Linked DNA regions of Homo sapiens. The protein of the gene in region 1 interacts with the protein of each later gene in a pairwise test. Each region holds a gene or a part of one and is shown on either strand. Other genes may lie near its edges. The genes, in order: TMTC1, alpha-crystallin A2 chain and GSN.

The links.
Region 2: the proteins of TMTC1 (region 1) and alpha-crystallin A2 chain interact in binary tests that used the Homo sapiens proteins (3 or more experiments, as listed by UniProt).
Region 3: the proteins of TMTC1 (region 1) and GSN interact in binary tests that used the Homo sapiens proteins (3 or more experiments, as listed by UniProt).

What each region holds. Positions count from the first base shown.
Region 1 is NC_000012.12:29,514,866-29,518,517, reverse strand, and holds part of TMTC1 (protein O-mannosyl-transferase TMTC1), read left to right. Parts: coding exon 1-46; intron 47-946; coding exon 947-1,091; intron 1,092-2,031; coding exon 2,032-2,169; intron 2,170-3,652. UniProt on the Homo sapiens protein: Transfers mannosyl residues to the hydroxyl group of serine or threonine residues.
Region 2 is NC_000021.9:6,502,079-6,505,730, forward strand, and holds part of alpha-crystallin A2 chain, read left to right. Parts: intron 1-3,652. UniProt on the Homo sapiens protein: Contributes to the transparency and refractive index of the lens. In its oxidized form (absence of intramolecular disulfide bond), acts as a chaperone, preventing aggregation of various proteins under a wide range of stress conditions.
Region 3 is NC_000009.12:121,271,161-121,274,812, reverse strand, and holds part of GSN (gelsolin), read right to left. Parts: intron 3,004-3,652; exon of another isoform or gene 2,950-3,003; intron 1-2,949. UniProt on the Homo sapiens protein: Calcium-regulated, actin-modulating protein that binds to the plus (or barbed) ends of actin monomers or filaments, preventing monomer exchange (end-blocking or capping).

The DNA.
Region 1 (3,652 bases):
ACAGGTCACTGGGAGAGAACAGCATGGCTGAAGAATGGTACAAGCGGTAAAGTTCCCTTTCTTTTCTTTATAAGTTGCCCAGGAACCTCAGCAATCACTCATCAGCTTCTTAGTTAATCAGAATAGGTGTGCTCTCAGAATACTAGCAAATTTTGCCAATTCAGGTGATACAAATTTTTATCTCCAAAGAAAGCAACCACAATATAAATGGGATCATAATTCATGACTTTGGCTTGCTGGTTAGACTATAGTGCTGAACCAAGGTTGAAATTTAATTCCCACTTTAGTCAGTTTGTTGTTTTCTGAAGCCATGGATTGCAACCCCAATCATAAACAGCAATTTAAAAAATGAGGATACATGAAAAACTATGCACACATGAGAACAAATTCATCATAATTAATGAGAAAGACCCTTGGGGCTCAGTTTCCATATTGATAGGTCAATAAGACATTCTTACGTTCCAACTATGGCATCATGATCATTTTGTAAAAACCTTGTTCTTGGCCAGGTGCGGTGGCTCATGCCTGTAATCCCAGCACTTTGGGAGGCCAAGATGGTCGAATCACCTGAGGTCAGATGTTCAAGACCAACTTGGCCAACATGGTGAAACCTCGTCTCTACTAAAAGTACAAAAATTAGCCGGGCATGATGGCGGGCACCTGTAATCCCTGCTACTCAGGAGGCTGAGGCAGGAGAATCACTTGAACCTGGGAGGTGGAGGTTGCATGAGCCAAGATTGTGCCACTGCACTCCAGCCTGGGTGACAGAGTGAGACTCTGTCTCAAAAAAAAAGAAAAAGCCAAAAACCTTGTTATTGATATAAAAACAAAGACCGTATTGGAGCAGAGGTTCAAACCATGGACCGTCTTCCCTAAATCTAAGCCTAGACATTTGGAAATGTACCTATTAGAAGAGAAATGTCATTTAGATTTTCTCCAAACTCAGCGCCCTGCAGGTGGCACACAAAGCTGAGATATTGTCACCTTTGGGAGCACTGTATTACAACACTGGCCGATACGAAGAGGCTTTGCAGATTTACCAGGAAGCTGCAGCACTTCAGCCTTCTCAGAGGGAGCTCCGCTTGGCACTGGTGAGTAGGATGAAAGAAAATGAAGCTGGCAACCTAAGCACAGGCAGCCATAGAGAGAGCTGTAGTCCTCACGCCTCAAAACTGGAGCTGGAATGCCGTAATATATCCACTGTATGAATATTCATACAGCTAATGTTAGAGCCATTCTCTAAAGACATGGACACCAAAAATACTGCATTTTTGTTTTGAAATAACTTCAAACTTATGAAAGTGTTGCAAGAATAGTAAAAAATTTACATATACCCTTTCATCCAGCTCCAATGATTTGTAACATTTTGATTCATTTATCACTCCATTGTGTATGCATATGTAGATGTATATGTACCTACATGTATATGTGTGCATATTTAGATATGTATGTTTGTATATACCTATTATTAGTGTGTGTTATTTTTTTCCTGAACCATGTGGGAATTAGTTGTATATATCATTCCCCTTTATCTCTAAATACCTTTGCAAATAGTTTCTAAGAAGGACATTCTCTAACATAACCACAGTGTATTTATTAGACTCAGGAAAATTAACATTCATACCAACAAAATTTTTATTTCAGTGTTTGGAACTTCACTCATCCTTTTCCTTAGATGTGCAATAAATCAAATTTGTTATCTTGCTGTAAACACACTGTTCTGATGAAATCAGAGGAAATTCTTTCTCTTCTGACTTATTTGGTCAACCTTTTTTAAAAGCCACAAGCCATTTCACTGGATATATTTAGTGTTTCTGCCACTCACTCACAAATGCATGCACAAAACTAAATAAAGAAACAAACAGCAAAAAGTCAAAACCTGAAAACTGGTGATTCAGCCTTCTCTATGAGTCACTAAATTGATGCTGAGCATGTTTGTCAGGAGTGCGTTCTGAATGCTTCTATTCAGGGATGCTTTATTTGATAAGGTAATGAAGTCTCTGCTAAGCCAAGGTCCATGTGGTTTTGTAGGCTCAGGTTTTGGCCGTGATGGGTCAGACAAAAGAAGCTGAAAAGATGACCAATCACATTGTGTCAGAGGAGACCGGATGCCTTGAATGCTATCGCCTCTTGTCAGCCATCTATAGCAAGCAGGAGAACCACGACAAGGTAAAGAAGGACATTGTTTAGAGTTCTTTGGATTCATAGGTTAAACATGGGGTGCACCTAAGTGATTCTCCAGTTTGCGTGTTTATAAGCCTGGGAAATCTTAAATCTTATCCGTCAGCATATCCTATCTCTTGGAAACTTTTCACAGATATCCCCTTAACACCTAAGATGTCCCCTTGTAATAATATTTTTCTTGGCTTATCTTTGGTGTAAAGCTTTTATGTGGTATTGTCTTAGTTTGTTTTCAGCTAAGTCTATAAAGATCAAGACCAACATTTATATGCTTTATTATTTTGTATTTTCCTTCTTATATATTGTTTTATGTAATCCTCATAACAACCATGCTTTACAGGGTTGTTATGAGGATTACATAAAACAATATAGAAGAGGAATATATAGGAAGATTACATGAAACAATATATAAGAAGGAAACACAGGGTGACCCAATGTCACAACTGTTATTATCTCCATTTTAAAAGTCACATAATCAGTAAATTTATAAACTGACTCAATGAAGTAATTGTTGAAGGCCCACTATGTCCTGGCCACTGTAGTAGGCATCAGAAATAAAGTGGTATGAAAAAAAAAAAAAAAAGTCACTGCCCTTGTCTTCATGGAGCTAACCCATAGAGAAGGAGATTAAACAGGTACTCACAAAACAAATGTAGAGTGATAGCTGTGCCCAGGAATATCATGAAGCGCTACCTCTCCCAAAGAGCATATAATCAGGGGACCCGATGAGTCTGGGAGGCCAGGTCTCCCTGTAAAGTGATGTGGAGGTGAGGGCTGGATGAAGAATAAGAGTTGTTAGGCAGAGGAAGAAGCAAGGAGGATTCTGGGCAGGGAAACGCACATGCAAAGCCCTGTGGCAGCAGTGAGGGGCCTCTCTGAGGAATGGGAGTGAGGGAGCAGGAGCACCGTAGGAACGCAAGCACAGGCTGCTGGGAGGAGACTCCTTGGGGCCAGGCCAAGGGTTTTGTTCCTTACCATGGGAGAAGCTTTGGGTTTTTGTGGAGAGGAGGAACATGATCAGATATTTGCTTTGAAGGGATCTTTGGCTGCAGTGGGGTCAGTGGGTGCTGGGGGCAGAATGGTCACTAGGACCTGAGAGGGGCTGGTGGGGTGGTCCAGATGAACACATGGTCAGGGAAAACGTCTGATGCCAAATCTTGTTTTCTTTCAACTGTATCACACCACCTCCCTGTAAAGTAATCAAGGATATTTTATTGCCACTCATCGATACGTGGGAAAACTGGAGTGTAAGAAAGTTATTTTGTCAGGGCCACTAATTCCCAGTGAGAAAATCAAAGATAATGAAGAATGTATATATATTTGAGACAAGGTCTTCCTCTGTTGCCCAGGCTGGAGTGCAGTGGCATGATCTCACCTCACTACAAGGTCCACCTCCCAGGGCTCAAGAGATCCTCCCATCTCAGCCCCCCCAGTAGCCGGGATTACAGGTGTGCACCACCACACCTGGCTA
Region 2 (3,652 bases), on another chromosome or scaffold:
GTTTGCAGCCTTTTCTCTCATTCGAAATTTGGTCAAGGAGAAAGTGTCATCTTTAAAACTGGCCATATTCTGAAACTTGGTTCAACTGACAAATCTAAACATTCTTCTTCTTCTTCTTTTTTTTTTTTTTTTTTTTTTTTTGAGACAGAGTCTCGCTCTGTCGCCCAGGCTGGAGTGCAGTGGCATGATCTCGGCTCACTGCAACCTCTGCCTCCTCAGTTCAGGCAGTTCTCTGCCTCAGCCTTCTAAGTAGCTGGGATTAGAGGCGCCTGCCACCATGCCCTGCTAATTTTTTGTATTTTTAGTAGAGTTGGGGTTTCACCATCTTGGCCAAGCTGATCTTGAACTCCTGACCTCGTGATCCCCCTGCCTCGGCCTTCCAAAGTGCTGGGATTACAGGCGTGAGTCACCGCGCTTGGCCATTTTCTTCTTTAGTGACCAAAATTCCTCCCCTTAGGCATTTTTGGTCATTCAGAAGGAAAATCTAAATTATGGACACTTGTGCTTCTAGAGCAGACATGCATCTGCAGAGACGGCAGCTGGATTCGTGGACAATGCTTATGGTGCCACCTTCTGTCAGTATCTAGAAACATGGTCTCACTTAACCCGTGAAGACCCCAGACTATAATAGCTAAAATGGGGCGCCTTTAAAGTAACTAGTTTATGCACTCAATAGGAAAAATCTGCATCTAAAATTTAAAAACTGAGAGAGCTATTTTTCAATGATACTTAGAAGCTTCTAAAAGAAGTTCTGATGAAGTCATTTCTTTGCAAGAAGAAAACAGAAGATTATCTGAAACTATTTCTTTTGTTTGTTTGTTTTGAGACAGAGTCTTGCTCTGTTACCCAGGCTGGAGTGCATTGGCGTGATCTTGGCTCACTGCAACCTCTGCCTCCCAGGTTCAAACGATTCTTCTGAGCTGGGATTACAGGCATCCCCCACCTTGCCTCGCAATTTTTTTTTTTTTTTTTTTGAGACAGAGTTTCATTCTTGTTGCCCAGGCTAGAGTGCAGTGGCACGATCTCAGCTTGTTGCAACCTCCCCCTCCCGGGTTCAAGCGATTCTTCTGCCTCAGCCTCCCAGTAGCTGGGATTACAGACACCCACCACCATGCCTGGCTAATGTTTTGTGTTTTTAGTAGAGACAGGGTTTCACCATGTAGGCCAGGCTGGTCTCGAACTTCTGATCTCAGGTGATCCACCAGCCTTGGCCTCCCAAAGTGCTGGGATTACAGGTGTGAGCCACCACGCCCAGCCATCCACAGTTCTTTTTAAAATTTAGAAGTAGTTTCAGGCTGGGTGAGGTGGCTCACACCTGTAATCCCAGCACTTTGGGAGGCCAAGGTGGGTGGATCACGAGGTCAGGAGTTCAAGACCAGCCTGGCCAAGATGGTGAAACCTCATCTCTATTAAAAATACAAAAATTAGCCGGGCATGGTGGCGGGCGCCTGTAATCCCAGCTACTTGGGAGGCTGAGGCAGAGAATCACATGAAACCCAGGAAGCGGAGGTTGCAGTGAGCCAAGATGGCGCCACTGTACTCCAGCCTGGGTGACAGAGTGAGACTCTGTCTCAAAACAAAAACAAAAACAAACAAACAAAAAGACCATGGAGGCTTTCTCCTGTTTGTTTCCAGCTGCTGCTTCTCCTTCTGCCTCTGGGATGATCTAAACTCATCTCTTTCTGCCTGTTCCCTCAGCTCCCATACATCTCTTAAGCAGTGTTTTTGGAATTCCACAATGCACACATTTCCTTCTCTCAAAAAGGGGAAAGTATATTTAAATTTGGAACAGACTGGGTGCGGTGGCTCACACCTGTAATCCCAGCACTTTGGGAGGCCAAATTGGGCAGATCACCTGAGGTCAGGAGTTCGAGACCAGCCTGGCCAACAGGGTGAAAACCCGTCTCTACTAAAAATAAAAAAAGATTAGCGGGGAGTGGCTGCGGGCTCCTGTAATCCCAGCTACTTGGGAGACTGAGGCAGGAGAATCACTTGAATCCGGGAGGCAGAGGTCGCAGTGAGCCGAGACGGCGCTATCGCACTCCAGCCTGGGCGACAAGAAGGAAACTGCGTCTCAAAAAAACCCAAAACAACAACAACAACAAAAATAAAAAATAAAAAATAAAAGAAATAGGCCAGAAAAGAAATGTTAGCTCAAGCCTGTAATCCCAACACTTTGGGAGGCCAAGGCTGGTGGATCACATGAGGTCAGGAGTTCAAGACCAGTCTGGCCAACATGGTGAAACCCCATCTCTACTAAAAACACATGTGGTGGCATGTACCTGTATTCCCAGCTACTCGGGAGGCTGAGGCAGGAGAATCGCTTGAACCCAGTAGGTGGAGGTTGCAGTAAGCTGAGATGGTGCCACTGCACTCCAGCCTGGGCGACAGAGCGAGATGCTGCCAAAAAGAAAAAGAAAAAGAGAAAGGAAGGGAGGGAAGGAGGGAGGGAAATTAAAAAAATAAAATGCTAACATCCAGGGAATTAGTTCAGCTGAGATCAGATCTGAAACAAGTCAAAACCCTTTAAATGCTCAAACTGCCTGCTCTGGAGCCCCTGCAGGGTTTGTCAGTGCTCCAGCCTGTGGGCCAGAGGCTATGAGTCTCTACAAACATGAGGCTATGTTTGCAGCCTGGGTTCAATTTCCAGTCCTGTTTTTTTTTTTTTTTTTTGAGACGGAGTCTTGCTGTGTTGCCCATGCTGGAGTGCAGTGGCATGATCTCGGCTCAGTGCAGCCTCCGCCTTCCAGGTTCCAGCAGTTCTCCTGCCTCAGCCTCCCGAGTAGCTGGGATTATAGGTGCCCACCACCACGCCCAGCTAATTTTTTGTATTTTTAGTACAGACAGGGTTTCACCATGTTGGCCAGGCTGGTCTTGAACTCCTGACCTCAGGTGATCTGCCTGCCTCGGCCTCCCAAAGTGCTGGGATTACAGGTGTGAGCCACCGCGCCTGGCCTTCTTTTTTTTTTTTTTTTTTTTTTGAGATGGAGTTTCGCTCTCGTCACCCAGGCTGGAGTGCAATGGCATGGTCTAAGCTCACTGCAACCTCCACCTCTCAGGTTCAGTCAATTCTTCTGCCTCAGCCTCCCAAGTAGGTGGGATTACAGGTGCTCACCACCACGCCTGGCTAATTTTTGTGTTTTTAGTAGAGATGGGGTTTCACCATGTTGGCCAGGCTGGTCTCGAACTCCTGACGTCAAGTGATCCACCCACCTCAGCTTCCCAAAGTGCTGGGATTACAGGTGTGAGCAGCAAGATTTCTTTTTCTGAGCTGTCTTTAGAGTGGTTCTGACGCTTAGGAAGACTGCTTTGCATTTCTTTGGAGATGCTTGGTTCAGCCTTGGTTAAGTCATGACCTTCGTTATGCCATTACCTTGGTTAAATCTTTGTTTTTGAGATGGAGTCTCGCTGTGTCACCCAAGCTGGAGTGCAGTGGTGCGATCTTGGCTCACTGCAACCTCTGTCTCCTGGGTTGAAGCAATTCTCCTGCCTTAGCCTCCCGAGTAGCTGGGATGACAGGTGCATGCCACCACACCTGGCTAATTTACCTTGGTTAAGTCTCACTGGTTTTGTGAGTAACTTGAAAATGTCCATTTCGTTTTTTTTTTTGAGATGGAGTTTCGCTCTCATTGCCCAGGCTGGAGTGTAAGGG
Region 3 (3,652 bases), on another chromosome or scaffold:
TCCTCCACCATGCCCCCACTGATGTTTGAATCACCCTGGTTTGTCTTCATCAATAATTTTGTTAGGTCGGTTTAGCAAGAATATCCCTTATTCCTGAGCTTCCTCTTAGTAATTTTCCATCCGCTGACCCCTACCCTGCTCTGCAGCTATCAATTCCCACTCGCCCATGCTGTATTAGGAGTTGAGCCCAAACTCTCTCCCTCACTGTAGGACCCTGTTGCAGTGGTCCCTATGCCCAAGGCAATGTTCCTGAATAAAGACTTCCTTACCGTGTTTTCACAAGTGTCACTGAATTTTTTTTTTAACAAGAAAAAGCTATAAAATGTGTCATTTTGACTCAGGAACTCCATTTCTAGGGCTCACTTCTAGGAAATAATAAAAGAAGAACACACAAAAAAAGTATGCACTAGGTTGTTCATTGCAGTATTGTTTATAAACTGCCTAAATGTTTCATAATTGAGGATTGTTAAGGGAACATGGTACAGGCACACCAAAGATAGAATAATAGTGAGTGATGAAAACTCGGGTGGGCATTTATTTCTACCATAACAAAAAAAAAGTAGGAGGCAAGACCCTTGTTTAAGGACTAAAGAGCCACTGACAATAACAGGGTACAGCCTAGTGCCCAGATCTTTTAATGTCTATATTCGATATCTGACTTATCTGTCGATTTCATCTGCTATGAGTTTCTAGAATCTGAACAGCTCTTGAAATACTTTGCTGCTTAATTATGGAGCAAAGTAGGGTCCTGTAGGAGAGAGAGACTCAGTAGAAAGCCATGGAAGGGGGAGAAATACAGCTAGCATTTGATCAACCTTTTCACCAGAAGTTTTTATACCCAAGATTATAAACATTATTCTCTCTGTATTTATGGATGCAAACTACAGCCCTGGGGAGCCCCAGTCTTGGTTCTTTGGGGGTGATCTTGGGCAAATCCTGTTTCTCTCAGCCTTTTTGTTAATAAATAAAAAGCATTATTTCATTTTTTAATCCCTAGGACTATTGGAATAAAAGATTTAAATTAGAATAAACATTTATCTACTTAGGTATAGTATGCTTTTAAAACTTTTAAAAATTAAATTTAAAAAGAATCCTTAATAACATGAGAAAAATACTTACGATATAATGTTGAGAAAAAACAGAAAGTCAGAACAGACAATTATAAATATAGGATAATTGTGTGGGGGTAAAAAAAAATGCACTGAAAATATCAGGAAGGAAGGGCACCCAGGTGTTGGCAGTGATTTTCTCTGGTTAGTTATGAACACTTCTTTTTTATATATATACTTTTTTATTTCCTAAATTTTCTATCACAAGTGTAATAGAAATAATAAGGGTGGGGGGAAAAGGTCCTTGGAGGTGGGGAGAAAAAAGTACATATGCCACCCACATCATCAACACACACCCAACAAGTTAACTAGTATTTACTTAGTACCCACCAAAACCCAGCTCAGCCACAGTCTCTGTAGCAGGGAAATTAAGGGCCAAGCCCCACCCTGAAGGCTCACATATGTAGAATATATATACTTTGCTTGGCAAATAAGCTTGGCTCTGATGATATTCTTATTGAGGTTGGAAAATAACAGGACTGTTTGCTTAGCCAGCTCAGCAGAATAAACGAATCCACTCCCACTGGTGCGACCCCTTCACTGGAGTTCCCTGCGAGGCTCCATGGCTTAAAGCCTTTCTGGATCACTCTTGGGAAGAGTCAATTTCAGGGATACTTTATAGCCCAGGAAGAAAACTGTTCTCATCCCTTAACCCAGGCACTGAATGCAAGAGGTGAAGAGGCTCCCCATGAGGCAGAGCAAGCAAGGGAGGAGGGAGGAGCAGGAGGGCCTGGGAAGGAACCTGACAGGCTGTGTGTGGGCCCTGGGGACCCCTGGGCAAAGGAGCTCACGTCTCCAGGCCTGAGTTTCCTCACTGGTAAAATGGGTCACATAATGACAACCCCAGGACTATTGTGAGACTCAAAGAAGAGAACGTAAGTCCTTTCATTTTTCTAAACTGAGCCTCAGTTTCCTCATCTGTAAAATGGAGTCACTATCTCTCCCCTCGTAGATCTGTTAAAAGATTAAAGCAGATAGTGAAAGCAAAAGGTGAACATACATAGTAAGTGTGTTACATATGGTGGCCCTTATTATTGTTGCTTGTAGAGCAGGGAATGGGATACATCAACAAATCCTAGGCCTCAACTCCCTTATCTGCAAAATGGGGCAATCAATTCAGTCCGAAAAGATTAAATTCAAGAACAGTAGCTGAATCACCAGTTGCACCACTGCGGGCTCACTTTGTGTCTCAGACATGCCGGACCCAAGTACATGTGGGGAGCACAAAGCCCTCCAACTCAGAGGCCATCAGAGCTGGGAAGGCTGACATTATGCTGTCCACCCTACAGTGCAGAATGGACACTGGGGCCCAGAGAAAGGCATGCATTAGCCCAAGTCACCCAGTACTTTGTCACTGGCAAAGCCAGGACCCAAGCCCAGGCCTTCAGCTGCCTACCCTTGCCCACAACACCCACTGCTTTTCTCTGCCCTATTCTTAAATTGCTGATGTGGTCCCAGGCAGGGCAGACGAGAGCAGGCATATGGCAGGGGAGGGACAGAGGGAAGGGGAAGCTGGCCAGCAGCAGGAACTGAGCCTGCCTGTGGTCTCCAACTTCACAAACCACATCAGGCTGAAATATGACACACGCTCACTCCGTTGAAAGCGAGGAGATATTTTTACTTAACATCCCCCGGCTGCCTAAACACTGGTCTCTTTTTTTCCCTTCCTCCCCAAAATGCATAACCCCTGGGACGTGCTTTTCTCTGCTTCTGCTGGCATTTTCTCAGGGAATAACCAAGGAGCAGGAGAGTGTCCAGTTTTCCTGGCTTCGCCAGATAGATTTCCAGAGCATAAGCTTGATTGATGAAAAGGGGGGACCAGTCCTGGCTGGGCTCTCACCTCACCACATGACCTTGCTGGGCAAGTCCTGTGTCCTTTTGGAGCCTGGATTCCCTGAAATGGAGGGGAGATTGACCTGCACTGAGGGTCCTGCGGATGGCACAGGAAAGCATGAGTTTACAAACAGCCCCGGGAGGCCCCTCCAGGCCTCTCTGCTGCAGGGCTGAGCTCTCCAAGCTCTGCACACCGACACCCACCCCTCATAAAAGCATAACAAACTCCCTTACCAGTTCTCCTAATACCAGGACTAGAAAGAATTTTCAAGAGAATGTTTAGTGCTGTCATTAATAGCTATGGCTCTGTCGTCAGACCTCTGGAATCCTTGCACCATCACCCAATAGCCACACAACCCGGGGCATGTTATTCAGCCTCGGACTCAGTTTCCTCATCTGTAAAAGAAGATACTAGTATCTACCTCAGAGGAATGGTTGCAAGGAATCAATAAAGTAATTAATGTTCCAGTGCTTGGTATATTAAAAGATAGCTTTTTTTGTCTTTTCTTTTTTTGTTTTGAGACAGTATTGTTCTGTCATCCAGGCTGGAGTGCAGTGGCGTGATTTCAGCTTACTGTAACCTCCGTCTCCAGGGTTTAAGCAATTCTCATACCTCAGCCTCCCAAGTAGCTAGGATTACAGGAGCATCCCAGCACGTATTTTCAGTAGAGACAGGGTTTCACCATGTTGACCAGGCTGGTCTCAAACTC